2 linked regions of the Homo sapiens genome follow. The protein of the gene in region 1 interacts with the protein of each later gene in a biochemical or structural test. Each region holds a gene or a part of one and is shown on either strand. Other genes may lie near its edges. The genes, in order: KMT5A and TCF7L2.

The links.
Region 2: the proteins of KMT5A (region 1) and TCF7L2 form a complex in vitro, tested with the Homo sapiens proteins (one study listed by BioGRID).

The regions. Positions count from the first base shown.
Region 1 is NC_000012.12:123,386,106-123,394,739, forward strand, and holds part of KMT5A (N-lysine methyltransferase KMT5A), read left to right. Parts: intron 1-2,805; exon of another isoform or gene 2,806-2,962; coding exon of another isoform or gene 2,963-3,077; intron 3,078-3,327; coding exon 3,328-3,449; intron 3,450-3,931; exon of another isoform or gene 3,932-4,237; intron 4,238-4,524; coding exon 4,525-4,681; intron 4,682-5,169; exon of another isoform or gene 5,170-5,325; intron 5,326-8,634. UniProt on the Homo sapiens protein: Protein-lysine N-methyltransferase that monomethylates both histones and non-histone proteins. Specifically monomethylates 'Lys-20' of histone H4 (H4K20me1).
Region 2 is NC_000010.11:112,952,203-112,960,836, forward strand, and holds part of TCF7L2 (transcription factor 7-like 2), read left to right. Parts: exon of another isoform or gene 1-140; intron 141-8,634. UniProt on the Homo sapiens protein: Participates in the Wnt signaling pathway and modulates MYC expression by binding to its promoter in a sequence-specific manner. Acts as a repressor in the absence of CTNNB1, and as activator in its presence.

The sequences.
Region 1 (8,634 bases):
TAGTTATTGATTCTCACTGTCTCACTTGACCCCCAAATTAGTAGTTACCTGTTTCTTAGGCTTTACTGCCCTTGCAAGCTATTAAATTGGATATTTAGATTTAGATTTTTTTTTTTTTTTTTTTTTTTGAGACAGAGTCTCTCTCTGTCACCCAGGCTGGAGTACAGTGGAGTGATTTCAGCCCGCTTCACCCTCCCTCTCCTGTGTTCAAGTGATTCTTGTGCCTCAGCTTCCCAAGTAGCTGGGATTACAGGCACCTGTCACCACACCCAGCTAATTTTTGTATTTTTAGTAGAGACGGGGTTTCGCCATGTTGGCCAGGCTAGTCTTGAACTCCTGACCTCAGGTTATCTGCCCACCTCGGCCTCCCAGAGTGCTGGGATTACAGGCAAAAGCCACCACGCCTGGCCAATATTTAGAATTGTAAATACCAAATCATTTACAGCACTTCAAATGAACAGTCTTTTTCTTCTAGAAAATTGGGCTTTGAACTTGCAATTCACTTTGAGAGCCCTGCTGGGTCACAGAAACAAACTGGTCAGATGCCAGGCAACACCTCACTCATTTTGAAGTTTTATAATCATGCAAATATTTACAACCCCAATATATTAGTCTCAGGGGTCAGTCCACCTACCTTTCACTATTTCTACTGCCATTGTTGAATGGTCTCTTGGTTGGTTGCCCTCCTCATTTTGCCATCTTCAGTTCATTATCCCTTAGCACCTGGTGGGGGGGTCTCCAAAAATACAGACTTTTCTTTTTTTTTGGGAGACAGAGTCTCACTCTGTCACCCAGGATAGAGTGCAGTGGCACAATCTTGGCTCACTGCAAACTCCACCCCCCTGGGTTCAAGTGACTCTCCTGCCTCAGCCTCCCAAGTAGCTGGGATTACAGGCATGCGCAACCACGCCAAGCTAATTTTTGTATTTTTAGTAGAGACGGGGTTTCGCCATGTTGGCCAGGCTGGTCTCAAACTCCTGATTTCAGGTGATTTGCCCTCCTCTGCCTCCCAAGGTGCTGGGATTACAGGTGTGAGCCACTGCGCCCAGCTGGTGTATTTGTTATATACGTATAAACTTGCGGAGAAAGGACTGTTTTGAAACTTACATTGAATGATCTGTATTTACATCTTCTAGGTACTGGAGCTGCAGAATTGAGAGGAATAGGTGCTAGACTTGTAATGTGTCCCCTGCAATTGGGGGCTCAAATGCAGAGAAAGCTATGACCATGAGTGGGGCGTGGGGTGTGGCTCGGTATACTAGAATGTGAAATGGATAAGATGATCTATGTGGGTGCTTCCTGCTCCAAAACCATGATTCTCATGGCAGTTAAGCTGCAAAACTTCTCTGCCTTGCAGAAATAGAAGACGCTTTCAAATGGCTCAACCTGGTTATCAGAGTGTCACTTTCGAATCCTCTTTCACCCTCTGGGTAATCTTTTGGATATTCAACTGTAGTAGGCTCTGCAGAGGGCATAGGCAGAGTACCTAGCCCACTGGAGTTAGTGGTTGGGCTGGAGACCCTGCCTTGAAGGATGCTAAAGCATGAGCTGATTTGGGAGGGATTGTCTGAGCAGTGACCTGTCACCACCTAATCCTACTCAGTCTTATCCGTTCCAATGGGAGTCGAGGGAGGCTAGGTGGGAGGATGGCTACAAACAGCCATTTGCTTATCTGTGGATGTTGGAAGGTGCTCTGGTGGATTATGGAATTCAAGGTTCTTGGTTTTTACCCATGAGGACACTGAGGCCCAGACTGGGGAAGTGACTTGGCGATGGTCACAAAACACCTCTGGGCAGATGCAGGGAAATAAGTCCAGCCCCTGACTCCCAGGCCATGGGCCAGGCTGCAGGAGCTGGATGCCTTGAAGTGTCTTGTTTGCATCTATGACTTTGCACAAATACAGTGAATCTGGCTGTGGGCCCTCAAGCCTTAATGGCCACAGAGTAGTGGTGCAGGGCAGTGAGCTATGCTGAAACAGCCACCAGAGTGACGGGAACCTCGTCTGCCTATGGGGGCATTTTCTCACGGCGGGATAGGAGAACAAGGTGACATGTTAAACCCTTCTGCAAGACCATTTGCTTCTCCCAAACTCCATTTCCTCATCTGTAACCAGGAAGGGTAGTGGCTGGGAGGGCAAGGCCCTGGGGTCAGTTGGCTGGGGCTGAAAACCCATCTAGTTCTGAGAACTTGGCCAAGCTCCTCACTTTCTCCATCTGTTGAAAAGAGATAATAATGGTGTCTACCTTTGCAGGGCTGCTGTGAGGTTTCAGTGAGATAACGGCAAGAGACTCGCCCAGGAAACCGATCATTATAACCCCTGGCTCTGTCTCCCCAGGGCTTCCTACCGGTCAAGTACAGCCCTTCTGGGTTTGACACCTGGCCCCATCACTTCCTAGTTCTGTGGCCCGGGACAAACCCCTGCACATCCCTTGAGTCACAGTGTCACCATTGTAAGCTGGGATGCCGACAGGACCTGCCCCCGTGGGCGTGCGGGGAGGATTCAATGCCTGTGAAACTCTCGGTGGGCACAGCGCCGGGCACACCCGAGGGCCTGGCCTGGCGCGTTCACCGCTGCTGATTTCGTCTGGCACAGACCGGGTTCCCAAAATATCCGCAGAGCCAGCGGAAAAAGGAGCCGGGCGGGCTGGCGGGAGGGCGGGCGGGAGCCTGGGCTGTCATGACGGTGTTTCCCACCCCTTCCTCCGCGAGTGGCTGAGGCCGCGCGAGAGGGGGCGCGCCCGAGCCGGGATTCGCCGCGCCCGCCCGCCCGCCCTCCGGAGCGGCCTGGCGGCGCCGCCCCTACCAGCCCCCTCCCCGGGCCGGGCGCCGGACGGTGGGCGGCTGCGAGCGGGCGGGAGGGCTGCGGAGGACGCGCCGCCTGCGCCTCCTTCCCTTCGTGCCTCGCCCCGGGCGGCCCGGGGCTGCCGCGGTGCGCGGGTGCCGGGCCCTGCCTCGCCGGCCATGGGGGAAGGGGGCGCCGTGGGGCGCCGCCGGCCCTTCCCCGGGGCGCCGCGGCGGCGCTGGTGGCGGCGGCGAGGGCGCGGGGCGCGCCGCCATGGGCCTGGCCGGGCTGCAGGTGGGTGTGTCGGGCCCGGCCGCGCGGGGGGCGGGCGGCGCGCGGGGCCTGGCCGGGCCGGGCGGCGGGAGGGCGACGCGGGCTCCGGCCCGGCCCTCCCGGCTGCGCGGGCGGCTCACCAGAGCCGGGGCCTCGAAATATGGCTGCGGCGGGAGGCGCCGTCGCGGCGCCCGGCCCGGGCGGCCCCGCTCCCCGCCCCGCCGCGCCCTGAGCGCCCCCTCCCCCGCTTCCCCCGGGTCCCCTTCTCCAGGCAGGAAGATGTCCAAGCCCCGCGCGGTGGAGGCGGCGGCGGCGGCGGCGGCGGTGGCAGCGACGGCCCCGGGCCCGGAGATGGTGGAGCGGAGGGGCCCGGGGAGGCCCCGCACCGACGGGGTAAGCAGGCACCCTCCCCGCACCCCTGCGGCGCGCCCGCCGGGCCGGGGCCGCGAGCACATGGGCGACCCCGGGTACCCGCCCGGGGCGCCCGGCCGGGCCGCTTCCTTTGCTGCCGCCTGGCTGGGAGTGGCGCCCACACGGCTCCGCCATGAGCCTGGCGGTGTTTGACCTCGGAAAAGTTTGACTGCGCCTTCGTGGCGTCTCCGCAGCCCAAGACCCTACTTCCCCGGAGGTGGCCGCGGTCCCAGGCTGTGCGGGGCCTGCGCGGGCCCCTCGGAGAGGTCACGGGTCTCACCGCCTCGGTGTTGAATGGTCCCCGAGGCGGCGAGGGCCCGGCGTTGCTTCTGGGGACGCCCTCCTCCGTCTGTACTTACTCAGAGGAGGGGCCCCACGCCCAGAGGCGCCCGCAGTGACCTGAACCGCCCCACCGCCCCGTCCACTCTCTTACTGACGCCCAGGTGCGGCTTGCGACAAAGTGGCCGCCCCGAATGCGCTGGCTGTGGCTCCTGCTCTTCCCAGATTCCCCAGTCACCCTGAGAGAAGTCCTCCCGTCGCAGCCCTGGAGGCTGCGGGGCTGCAGTGATTTGAGAGGGGTCAGGCTCCGGCGCTCATGGGGCTCTGGCTGTGCTGACAGGCCCTCCAGCCGCCCTCAGCACCAAGTGGTTAATCAGGTTCCCCGGGGCGTGTTTCTGTGCTGAGTCCCTGCGGCTCCTGCCAGGGCAGTGAACTCCTAAAGATAGCCTAGCTCTTCACATGCCCAGGTCCTTTTGACCTCCCTGTTGCGGGTAGGCTGTCTTCTTCCTATATAGACCTTGGGTTGCAGCCGACTCTCCTGCTGGCCAGCTGTCCCCTTAGTGATTTAGAGACCAGCGCGTTTAGGAAACGTTTCACTGGACCTGGGATTCTAAACCTGCCAGTGCTCTCCTGAGACAATGGGGGCTGGCATCCCCTGGTAGCCCAGTTTTTGAAAAACGGTGTTGTCTGATTTTCATCTTTTGTATTCCTCCTCCTCGTGAATGCTCTAGGATCTTCTTCTTCAAGCCTCTTTCAGAATATGCTTTTGTCTTTTTAGGAGAACGTATTTACCGGGCAGTCAAAGATCTATTCCTACATGAGCCCGAACAAATGCTCTGGAATGCGTTTCCCCCTTCAGGAAGAGAACTCAGTTACACATCACGAAGTCAAATGCCAGGGGAAACCATTAGCCGGAATCTACAGGAAACGAGAAGGTAAGCTTTTGAAATGGCCTCGTTCTGATCCCAGCTGGTCGGGTTGCAGAAGCCTCTGTCCTCTGCAAGAATGCACATATGTATTTATCCAACCTTTTCAGTCTCAGATTCGAGAGGTTTGAGCCATGTTCTGTCTTGCTGCTGAAAGAATGGCTTGTCCCAGGGTGTGTGCCCTGTTGGTTTGACAGGTTTTCCCTGCTTTCACAAGAGTTAGCATATCCTTCAAGCTTGATTGTCTTGCTTAGTTGCAAAAATAACATACCTGACCCACAATTAGAGAGGCTCACAAGTGCTGAAAGTGCAGAAGTCATGAATTCAGGTTGTACAGACCAGGCAATTGCAGACCTAACTAATGTGTTCATGTAGGGAACTGACTTCCTTCCCTTTTATGAGCTGGCCTTGACCCCATTTCTTTTTCTTTTTTTGAGACGGATTTCCGCTCTCGTCCCTCAGGCTGAAGTGCAATGGCACGATCTCAGCTCACTGCAACCTCCGCCTCCTGGGCTCAAGCGATTCTTCTGCTGCAGCCTCCTGAGTAGCTGGGATTACAAGCGGCCGCCACCACGCCCAGCTAATTTTTGTATTTTTGGTAGAGACGGGATTTCACCGTGTTGGCTAGACTGGTCTCAAACTCCTGACCTCAGGTGATCCACCTGCCTTGGCCTCCCAAAATGATGGGATTACAGGCATGAGCCACCGCGCCTAGCTGCCTTGACCCCATTTCTAAAGTTTCCTGCCAATCAAGCATTTGGTGTTAGTTTCTGAAGCAGCATCCTATGCAATGAGATTTGGAGTTAAAATGTTAAACCCGAAAATACAGGGTTAATGAAAACGGTCTGGTCTTGCAAAACAAACTGAAACCTCTTAGACATCTTGCTCTAATCCAAATATTCCCTTTCAAAGCTGCAGTGGGGAGTGTCAGCTTTCCCCAATTCACCATGCTCTCTTCTAATTAAAACTTGTCTGAAAGAAGCAGAGCCTCTGGCTGCCAGCAGCTCCATACAAGGAAGCCTTGTGTTCGCTAACAGAAAGTGTCATAAATGACGATTTGGCATGACCTCTGGGGCCGGATCTGAGAACCAGGGCTGGGCAAGCCCTGAACTGGGGACAGGAGCCCACCCTGTGCTTGATCTCCCCTGGTACACAGGGCAATATTGTTTTATTTGATCTTCAGATGACTTGGGTTCCAATCTTAAGTTTGCCACCTGAAAGAAGGAGGCTTAGATAGGTTGCTGCTCTCTTCTGAGCCTCTGTTCTCTCATCTGTAAATGGGGAGAGAGGAGTCTGACCTCACACACACAGGACTGTTTTGAAGGGTGGTTGCAGCGTGGATGCCAAAGGGCTTTGTGGTGGACTCCATGTGCCAGCTCTTCACCCCTGGACTGCCAGCTCATCCCTGGACCTGTGGCACTTAGAATTCCTGCCCATAGGGTTGGGGAGAGGCGCTGTCTATAAATGGTAGTTGCCCGGACTCTAGTCCTTTAAAATAGGGCAGTCTATACATTGTACCAAATGGTGGCCTGGTATACAAGCTAGTATATTTGGCTCATGGTTTTACTAAATGGCCATGATTAGAATTTTGGGTCAGAGTCCGGGCATGGTGGCTCGGGTTTGTAATTCCAGCACTTTGGTAGGCCAAGGCAGGAGGATTGCTTGAGCCCAGGAGTTTGAGACCAGCCTGGGCAACATAGTGAGGCCTCATCTCTACAACAATGAAAACAAAAAAAATTAGCCTGGCATGGTGGCATGCATCTGTAGTCCCAGCTGCTTGGGAGGCTAAGGCAGGAGGATCCCTAGCACCCAGGAGTTTAAAGCTGCAGTGAGCTATGATCATGCCACTGCACTCCAACCTGGGGAACAGAGAGAAACCCCATCTCTAATATAAAAATAAAAAGAATTTAGGTCAGCTGGACTTTGGAGACCCCAAGGTCCAGGCTGTGGTCCGTGATTCTGCTGTGATACAGACTGAGTGATAGATAATGTTCACGGGCACCACACACTCCTGGGCCTGATGTCCTGGCTTTAATTCTCTCTGATTTCACCCAGGAAGGTGTGTAGAGGAGGAAGAAAGATCTGGATGGTTTTAATGGTTTTTGTTTGTTTTTTTTGAGACACAGTCTCGCTCTGTCTTGCAGTCTGGAGTGCAGTGGTGCAATCTCGGCTCACTGCAACCTCCATCTCCCGGGTTCAAGCAATTATCCTGCCTCAACCTCCCAAGTAGCTGAGATTACAGGTGCCCGCCACCACGCTCGGCTAATTTTTTGTATTTTCAGTAGAGATGGGGTTTCACCATGTTGGCCAGGCTGGTCTTGAACTCCTGACCTCAGGTGGCCCACCCGCCTTGGCCTCCCAAAGTGCTGGGATTACAGGTGAAGTCACTGTGCCCGGCCTAATGTATTTATTTATTTTTCTGTTTTGTTTATCTAGATATAGTTAATATATCATAACGTTCATGTTAAAGCGTATGAGTCGGTGGTTTTTAGTATATTCACAGGGTTGCGCAACCATTACCACAGTCTAATTCCAGAACGTTTCCATCACCCCAGAAAGGTACCCATTAGGCGTCACCTTCGATTCCCCATCCCTCTAGTCCAAGGTAACCATTAAAGTACTTTCTGTCTCTGTGGATTTGCCTGTTTTGGACATTTCATATGGATGGAATCACAAAATACATAGCCTTTTGTGTCTGGCTTCTTTCACTGAGCATCATGTCTTCAAGGTTCATCCGCGGTGTAATAAGTATCAGTGCTTCATTCCTTTTTTTTATTTTTGAGAAGGAGTCTCTCTCTCTCACCCAGGCTGGAGTACAATGGTGCAATCTTGGCTCACTGCAACCTCTGCCTCCCAGGTTCAAGCTATTCTCCTGCCTCAGCCTCCCAAATAGCTGGGATTATAGGCGCACACCACCACGCCTGGCTAATGTTTTTATATTTTTAGTAGAGATGGGGTTTTACCATCTTGGCCAGGCTGGTCTCGAACTCTTGACCTCAGGGGAGCCACCCTGCCCAGCCCTTCATTCCTTTTTATGGCTGGATAATACTCCCTTTTGTGGATAGGCCACATTTTGTTTATTCATCTGTTGATGGACATTTGGGTTGTTTCCACTTTTTGGCTATTACAAATAAACTGTTACGTTCCTGCATAGATTTTTTTGGGGACATATGTTTTTAATTCTCTGGAATAGATGCCTAGGAGTGAAATTGCTGGGTCATATGGTAACTCTGTGTTTAACTTTTTGGGAAAATGTCAAACTGTTTCTAAAGTGGCTGCACCATTTTATATCTGTGAGCAGCGTACTATTTACTTAATTTTTTTTTCTTTTTTTTTTTTTTTTTGAGACAGAGTCTCACTCTTTCGCCCAGGTTGGAGTGCAATGGCATGATCTTAGCTCACTGCAACCTCCGCCTCCCAGGTTCAAGCAGTTCTCCTGCCTCAGCCTCCTGAGTAGCTGGGATTACAAGTGTCCGCCAGTACACTTGGCTAATTTTTGTATTTTTAGTAGAGATGGGGTTTACCATGTTGGCCAGGCTGGTCTTGAACTCCCGACCTCAGGTGATCCGCCAGCCTCGGCTTCCCAAAGTGCTGGGATTACAGGCAGGAGCCACTGTGTCCAGCCTATTTACTTAGTTATTTAAAAGTAAAACATTTTTTAAAAAGGTAAGCAGTTTTCCAACACTGTCACTCCACAAGTGTTTTAAGTGACAGATCATTGCAGTGTGTCTCCCGATACCCAGGCCAGTCTGCTGGGGCACCATGCTGAGAACTGCTGTGAACCTGGGGCTTCAACCCCACTAGAAGGGGACCTTCTTTTTCTTCGGAGTCTGAAATGAAGGGTGCCAGGCAGCTCTTGGGGAAGAGTTTCTGCTTTGTCACCTTACTCCTGTCCCCTAATGCTGTCCCAGCCTTCAGGAATGGAGCTTTTGATCTGAGTCTGCAACCTGATTCCTGAAAGC
Region 2 (8,634 bases), on another chromosome or scaffold:
CTTGGCTTTCTCTTTTGGGCGACTATGTATTTAGCTTTCTAGTGGAGATTGCTGGCTCTCGGCCCTCCTTCCCCCTTCCCCTGGAAGGTCACACTTCCCAGATTGGTCCCACCGCAAACTTGGGGGCTCTGAGGCGTCCTTTTCTTTGGCAACCCGCAGGGCCGCGAGCGCCCTGGGCGCCGTGGCGGGCTCCGCTGCCCGGCGCACTGGCTGCGGGCTCTCCCGGGCCGCGCAGGGCAGCAGGGCTGAGTGGGGCGGGGAGGCCCCTGCGGCCCGGATTCTTGGTTTGTGTGCAGCCGGAATGGACTCCTCCAAGCGGACTTGTGTATTTCTAGGGAATTTTGGCGCCTTGGGATGTATGGCGGGGTCGGCGCTCGCCAGCTTCCGTGTAGGCCCGTCGTGGGCCCCAGGGGGGCCAGAGACCAGGGTGTGCGGGCTCAAGGAGGTGCGGGGGCCGAGGGAGGCTGGGGCGCCTCTCCTTCAAGGGAGTGGGCCGCCGATCGCCGGCCACCCAACTTTGGGGGCCCCAGGGCAGCGCGGGGTGCCGGGCTCGGGGGGCGCTTCCTGCAGGGTCGGTCCCGCGCCCAACCCTGACATTTGTTAATACGGCTCATCCCCTCCCCCACCGGCCTGTGCCCCCTGCCCTCACCCTGAACCCCCTCCTCCTCATCCCTCCCTCCCTCTTCTAAGAAGCCTGGATTACGAATCCCTGGACGCAAGACGCATTTGTGCCCGGCTTCCCGGTATTGTCATTTTACACCTTCTCCAGTTTGGTCCCCTACCCCTTATTTACACACACGACTTTTGTTTTTTCTTTTTCGGTAACTCTAGATAGCAATTTGAAATAATGCACCCACTGTTCAGCAGCCATGGATTCGGTGCTAATGGCCGAGGGCTTGCCGGACGGGAGTCGATCAGATCTACAAGTGTTTTTAAGCATTAAAATATTAACTATCAGGTTTGACTTGCTTTTTTGGGCCCTGGCAAAATGGCAAGGGCATGCTAGACCGGTCATTTTTTTTATGGCTAGGGAAGAGAAATAATTATTCCCCCCCTGCCCGGCGCCCAGACATGCTTGGGAAGCTGGGAGAGCGGTTCGGCTCAACCCCCTTCTCCAGGGCCAGTTCCACCAGGCTGCAGGGGCCGCGCTCTGGGCTTGCAGCTGTAGGGGAAGCACAGTTCGCTTACTTTGTATTTTTCTTGGGAGCTTGTGGGGCATCTTAAACGGGACCGTTCGGCTCAGAATCGCAGTGTTCGCCTACCAATAAACCGGACCAAGCAACATTCCAAAGAATCCCTGAGAATTTCTGCCTCTCCTCCCCTCCCCCTTCCGATGGAAACCTCCCTGGTATTATTTTAAAATCCACTTAACCATCTGAATATTGAGCTTTGATGGCGGGCTTGCTAGCTTTCTTGACTCTTTTTAAACTCGCTGTCTGATACTGGCAATCTTGCCATCCCTTCTCAAACTTGAGCAGTTGTGTTGTCTTGTAATTAGCAAACAGGGAAATTGCTAAAGGCAAATAAATGATTTCCCGGTGAGAAAAGGAAGGCTCCCAATGATCGGTCCCTTTTGTGGGCATTATAGGAATAGACGGCGTCTAGTTATTTTAATTGTGGACATAGCGGGTGGCCTGGTGCTGTGACATCAGATTGAGTCTCAGAACACATTTCTGAACTCAGTAGGCAGTTTTAGTACTTACATGTCAAACACCAGCAGACATCTTTGTGTACACTGCCCCTTCGTCCTTCCTCCCTGTTACCTGGGTTAGATTATGTGCTCCAAAATTAAAGTTATTTATTTAGGCTGGTCAGCAGAGCAGTGGAAATGAGGATGGTAGGCTGTTGTGTGTCATTCCTGACGTCTTCAATCAGAAGGCCAGCTTGCAATCCAGATTTGATACAGCTGCGGGAGGAATGGAGGAATGCATAGGCAAGATAGCGGGCTTCCCATACTCTTCTGAAATCCTTAGTGTTTTATAGGGTGTGTTTTTAATGGCAAGGTGTAAAGACAAATTTCGCTGTATGCTTTATTATTTTCCCTTTGCTCCTTGGTGGCGGTGATTTTTGCTACATTTTCTGTTACTTATGGTGTACCTGTAAGCAGCTGCATCCTTTAAAAAGCAAACTCTCTGGAACCCTGATTTCTGCTTTTTTATTTAAGAATGTAAAGAATTAGAGAGTATCATTAAATCGGCTTATGATGAATAATACATTATCTCAAGAATAATGCTTTAATTGCTGAAGACACCATAAAGCTTGATAGTAATAATTTTATTTTAAAATGACAAAGATTTCTGCATAATATTAATTTAGTCTTTGATTCAGTAATAGGAATGGCTTTTAAAAAGACAGATTCAGATACAAAACTGCATTAAGGAGAGGTCTAGTTAAGTAGATGGGAAGTGTTAGAACTGCAAATATTAGAACTGTGGTAACATTTGTATATTAAAGATAAGAATACTGTAACCTATTAAAGTTGATTGGAAAAAGTAGTTTTACATTTCTTTTTCCCTCCTGGCAAAGTGGAAATAGGAATATGGTGGTTGAAATTCCAGTTAGGTTTGAAATTTCTTTTTAAGGACTTGATTATTCGAGCCCTTGCATCTTCTCTTATCCAAAGTTATTTGCTTTTCAACCGAGCTCTTTGCTACTAGGTTGAACAGATAAATAAGCTGCATCTTGAATTCATTTTTGAACTTGGAATCCAGCATTTAAAGGAAACCGAGAGGGGCCTATTCATTGGGATTTTATTTAGCCGGGCAACTTCTCTTTCTGGCTTGTGAAAAATGGACGTTTTTTCCTCACTGAAACAACATAATCCTTTCTAATACAAAAGATTTAGACCTTGGAGTGTGAAGGGTTAATGGTGGTCCTTCCCAGTTGTCCTCCCACCCCCCCACCTCACCCCTGATTGTTTTGACAACACTTTTCAAAGTGTGACATTCCAAGCCCCTACATAACAATGTAATATTACTGTAATTACACAGGTCATTACATTTTAAATAGAGAACAATAAAATGCTTATCGCCCTGAAAAAGAACAGGTGTTCTTACCCTTCTTTGGTATTTATGCTAATTGTTTTTCATCTCCTTCAGAAATATTTATGGCGAACATGTTTAGATTTCAATCTCAATGCAACCGTATTAATTCCATGCTAATCTTTATAGGTTGGGGTTTAATGTCTGCAGTATGGATTATAGGCTCAACATTCACCCAATAAGTCATATTTTAATGATTATAAATTAAATATGCCAGCGCTTTCCACTTTGTTGATATTGAAACTTTCTGAAATCCCAGAAACAAACTCAGGCATTTGGGAGCCTAACGAGCTTATCTGGAAGACGTGTTTTTGGAAACTTTTGACTGTTTAAGGGAAGGAGCTTTGACTGATGCCCTCTGTGTCTGATTGAGAAAGAGTTTTTTGAGGAAAACAATCCTCGTTCTTGCTAGGAGTTCTTCACCTTGATTTTAATTTTACTGATAGGGATTTCATTTAGAGTCATTGCTGGAAGTTGGTCAGCTTTCTGTTTCTTAGCAAGCTGTGAAAAAGTTACCGGAAGGTTTCCAGGGGCTTGCAGATCAAGAATGCTGTTCTGTTTGCCGTGCTGGATCGCTGCAGTTCTGCACGCCATTGAAAAAAATATTTGCTTTAGAAAACTAGCATTTTAATAGTTGCACCAGAGGCTGTGCTTTTAAAGATTACAGTAGAAGTCTTTCCAGGTTTCGAATGCCTCCTTACATCCCACGAGGTGCCCCTGGCTGTGTGCAAAAAGTGCCTAGATTTCTCGGTGGAGAAATCCTGGTGCAACTTCTCTTACACACGTGCAGTGGGTAAACTAGAAGGTATCTAAGAGGATTTTACATTTTGTCAGATGTTTCACAACAGGCCCCCCTGAATCACATTAAAAATGCACTGTAGAGAAAGGACAGCTGCAAATTTTTGTGTGGACGCGTGTTTCTGGACCATGACTAAAACTCCGAGGACCTTTCCCCCAGCTGTCTGGAAGTTATGTGGAAGTTGGTTTATTGGCAGTTAAGTATGAGACAACCTGGATTTAGCAAATGCTCTCTCCTGCACAGGAAGTAGATGACATTATATTGGGGGAAGGGAGGAGATTTCAGGCAAGGAGTGATTTACCTTTTTTTTTTTTTTTTTTTTTTTAAATGCTGGAGTTGCCAAATAAATAAGCACTTTCCAGGGAAGTAAGTGTAAGCTTTTTAGTCTTGGTGAGTGGCATTAGATAATATCTTTGACTGCATTTATAATTCTTTTGAGGTGACACATTTTAAAGTTTGGAAAAGGAGGCTGAACCAAATTCTTGAGGGTCTTATTTTCAAAGGGGTGTGTGATGTGGGCATCTGAGTTTCTTCTGGGAGTGAATATTGGCAACTATGTAAGTAAATCTTCAACTCTGACTTATAATTGAGCACATTTGTGAAGGAAATGGTTAATTTTACAACCAAAGGCAAACTCGCACCTCGACAGGTCTGCTGAAAGAAATGTGCCCCAGTCTTTTTGCTGGCAAGCGCACCACCAGGTCATAAATCCACAGGCTTTATTTACAGCCCATAACACTTATGAATGTTAAGATATTTGACGCCACGTTGGCCTTATAATATTCAAGGTCCGCAGACATTGGCAGTAGCTCAGATTTCTCTCACTAATTATAAGCAATGAGATGGGGGGAGGTGGTGGTATCCTAATGCAAATGCTGCCCTCCCTTCTCCGCTGACCCCCACCTCTACAATCTTGAGTTTACTGAGACAGACGCCACCACTCCTTTGGCAGCTGACTTGTACGTTTCCTCTAGGCTATTGTTATACACATTTATAAAGAGCACTTTCAGGAATGGAAATTCAGTGGGGGCTCTGCACAGATGCCTTTTTCAAAAGCAAAGTTGCTCTAGGTGTTTGCATCTTTTCCCTTTTCTTTTCTCCCTTTTTCCTTTCTTTCTCTTTTCTTAATTCCCCCCAACACCCCCACCTTTTTTTTTTTTTTTTTTTTTTTTTTGAGATTACATTGCCTATATTGTGCATTTTCCCCAGGAATACTTAAAGAAACCTGGTATGGGAGACGGCTCTTTAATTTATATGATGTTCCCCTGAGTGGAAGGGAAAATGTACACATTACATAGTACACTAGTTAAACTAGTTAACGTGAGAGTTTTTAAAAAAGTGAGATGAGGTGAAGAGAGTTGACTAAAAGAATATAATAGGTGAGGGGAAAAAAAATCCAGGTTTACACTGGGGATGGGAGGGCTGCTTATTTGTGAAAAATGTACTGGTATCTGCGGGAGGAGGCACAGAAAAGTAGCCAGAGGAGACAGAATAAATGCCTAAGAAAGATAAGAAAAGTATAATACAAGAGAACAAAGATTTGGGTTTGGGGGAATTGAAATTGGAGATTGGAAGTTTCCTTATGGAGGGGCGTGGGAGTACCCTGGGCTGGGCTATTAAAAAGGGATATTGCTTTGCTCAGCAAAGATGGGCTGCGATCCCTTCATTACCCAGGGTGTTCTACCTAGCCACAGATGTGTTTCCTATCAGTTACTGTGTAAGCATCTGAGGGTGAGGCATTATCTGTGGTGGAGACTGGAGTGTGAGAGAGAAGGCCAGTTGTCCTGCTGATTTTAATTTATGTTGAAAAAGTGGGCTGTTCTGGTGTATTACAAACTGACTACGCGGTATAAGGAGGAAGTGAGATTCAAAGGTGTTTGCCAGGCCAGGAGAGATGATGGCTCTCATTTCTGACTGGATCCTTCCTTCCATCCAACCCAAACTTAAAGACCCAGGCCGAAAGGTTTTCTTTTCTAATCAATGGCATGCAGAAACTTACTAGCCCTCAGGGATAGATATGAATCCCTAAACAGCTCATTACAAAGAAGGGGCTGTGGGATCTTTGAACGGGTTATCAGCCGAGGTGTTCTTTGCTTTTCCCAAGATAGGTTTTTTCTCCTTAGGCACATCTGATTTCGGGCTAGTAATTCGACCTGTTATATTTTATTCTTTTTGTCATGCAGTAGCCCCAACCAGGTCGGTCTACGGAGGAAGGAATGGCCAGGAGTGGCATCAGCCCTGAAGGAGTTAAAATTGCTCCCTAAAGTTTGGCATCATGAAAATAAATTTGAGGCCTGGTAGGCATTAGCAGGGCACAGCACATTTACAGAGCTTAATTAGTACGCACTGTAATTGTTCATGGTCTGCCAGAAGAAGTAATGTTCAGGAAAAGTGGAGTCCCTCTCTTGCAGTCTTCAGCTTGAAACCGATAAATCACTTGCATATTTGTGTAGTGATTCAAATGGAGCTAAGACCTCTCCCATCCCAACATGTGGTAAATTGTAAAGTCAATGAATTGCAGATGTAGGCTACAGTGAGATTCTCTAAGAAAATGCAGAATGAATGGGAAAGAGTGACGCTATAAATATTTACTGAGAAGATAACTAGATTCCTTCGTGCTGGGCCAATTATGATGTACTAAAATATATTAGTAAAATGCTTAAAAAATTGAGAGGATTTGTGTGGGTCTTTGGGTGGGTTGGTTTGTTTTGGAAAGTGAAATAAAAGGCACTATGTTGTTGTCGTGTCAGTTTTATTAAGCCTGAATCACAATGGCATACCCAGGGAAGGACACATGAAACCCACATTAATGCAAATTAATTCGTTATGAGTTGCAGCACTGCGACTGCTAAGTGGAGTAATGATGGGGCATCATTTTAAGAGTTTTAGTGTAGCAACTTTTAATGAAAAATGCTGTGTTAGGAACATGTCTCAGCACTTCAGCCCACGTGTTTTTCTATATGCTAGAAATATGTTTTGTACAAGAGCAGGAAACTTGATTCACTTTATTTTTTCCCCCAGACAGTTTAAGAGCTTTAATTATGTTTTGACGTTGAAAGAAAATCATCTAGTTTTTCTCAAAAATCAACCCAGAAATGCCCATCACCATAAAGAAGTTCAAGCTCAACTTTTTTTTTTTGCGAGACTTTGCAGCACAAAGTGGAGAAACGATGAACATAGCATTTCCCCGCAGACCTACAGATAAAACTTTCTTGAAGCGACTTTTTCCCCTTTTTTTCTTCTTAGAGAATTTTGGTCTCAGGCAATGTTGCAAGTCAATACTTCTTTCCCCAAATGTGAGTAGGTGGATACGTATAGAAGCTGTAAAAGTTAATGATCGTTCTCTGACTCATAGCTGATGGTTTCAGGTTGAGGAAAAGAAAAATTAATGAGGGTAAATAGACATTTGATGGAACATTGAGACAGTAGGAGAGATTGTTCTTGTGTCTAAAGGCATGCATTTTGTTGCAGCAGAATTTCTGAGGCAGAATGCCAGGAAGTGAAAGGGGATGCTGTCGTTAAGTTATTGTTTAGGGATGGTACAAATGTTCAGTGTCTAGATCTCTGCAGGAATGTTTAAGCTCAAGTACCAGGCAATGCTGGTTTTGCCTTTTCTCTTGAAGTCAGAGGCCCCCCTTGGTACTTTTTATAAGGGCAGGCAGTCACCCAAAGTCTTGGTCAAAAGTTTATTTCCCATTAAATGTAAAAGGCTCTCAACACAGGACTGGGGGCAGTGGGGTAGGGGAAGCTGGGCTTATAATGGCCTGTGGTTGCTCAAATGACTAATGACCTAAGAAAAGGTCTTAGGTATACTAAAAAAAAGTATTTTGTTTCTTAAGGTAATTACATGGAAATTAGATTTCAAGTGGCTCATGGTAGCAGCTACAGGGTAGAGAGGAAAGTGGACCAAAAAAACTAACACCTCCTAGGAAATGATCTGTTTTTTTTTTTAATATAGATAAGAGAAAGCCAGGTGATTCATAAAACTGAAAATAAAGTAAATGTTCCACCTCTTCCCAATTTAGCAGGACGAATAGGCATCAAAAATTAATGTGCATCATGTTAGAAGTTAGCTTAGTGCTGGAAAAACCAACAGAGGATTTCAATTGTTTTAATTGTCTTTGAGGAGGAGATTCCTGTGGTTGAAAAAAGCTGTTTCCCATTCCATGTCTGGGTATCTCTGATGTTTTGCATATCAGAAACATCAAATTTAGAGCCCAGTAGTGATTAGAAATAAGATGAAGAATCTAGATATGATGATAATAAGGGAAGGGGTTAATCTTAAAATGTTGGTCTTTACATTGCTGAAGAATTTTGCAAGCCTGTGCTGAGAACTGCCGAGTCTTCACCGTTCTTCCTCTGGACAAGTGAGGGCTGAGGCATTTGTGGGTAGTAGAATGGGGGATGGGCTTGGTCACTGATTTTTGTTGAGAGCTTCATGGGAAGCAATGAAATGGAAAATACGCTGGAGTTCTCATCTGGTGACTCCCTGGGTACTCCAGGCAGGGAAGTGCCATTTTGAAGGTGTGAGGCACAGCCAGGTGAGAGCAGCCATGTTTGCCGGATGAGGAAATGATGTGGAGTGGTCTTGGAGCACTCCTGGTGACTGGTGCAGGACAGTCCCAAGAGATGAGGCAGATGGGAACCTGTTTTTTTTTTTTTGAGATGGAGTTTCGCTCTTGTTTTCCAGGCCGGAGTGCAGTGGTGCGATCTTGGCTCACTGTAGCCTCTGCCTTCCCGGCTCAAGCAATTCTCCTGCCTCAGCCTCCCGAGTAGCTGGGATTATAGGCGCAC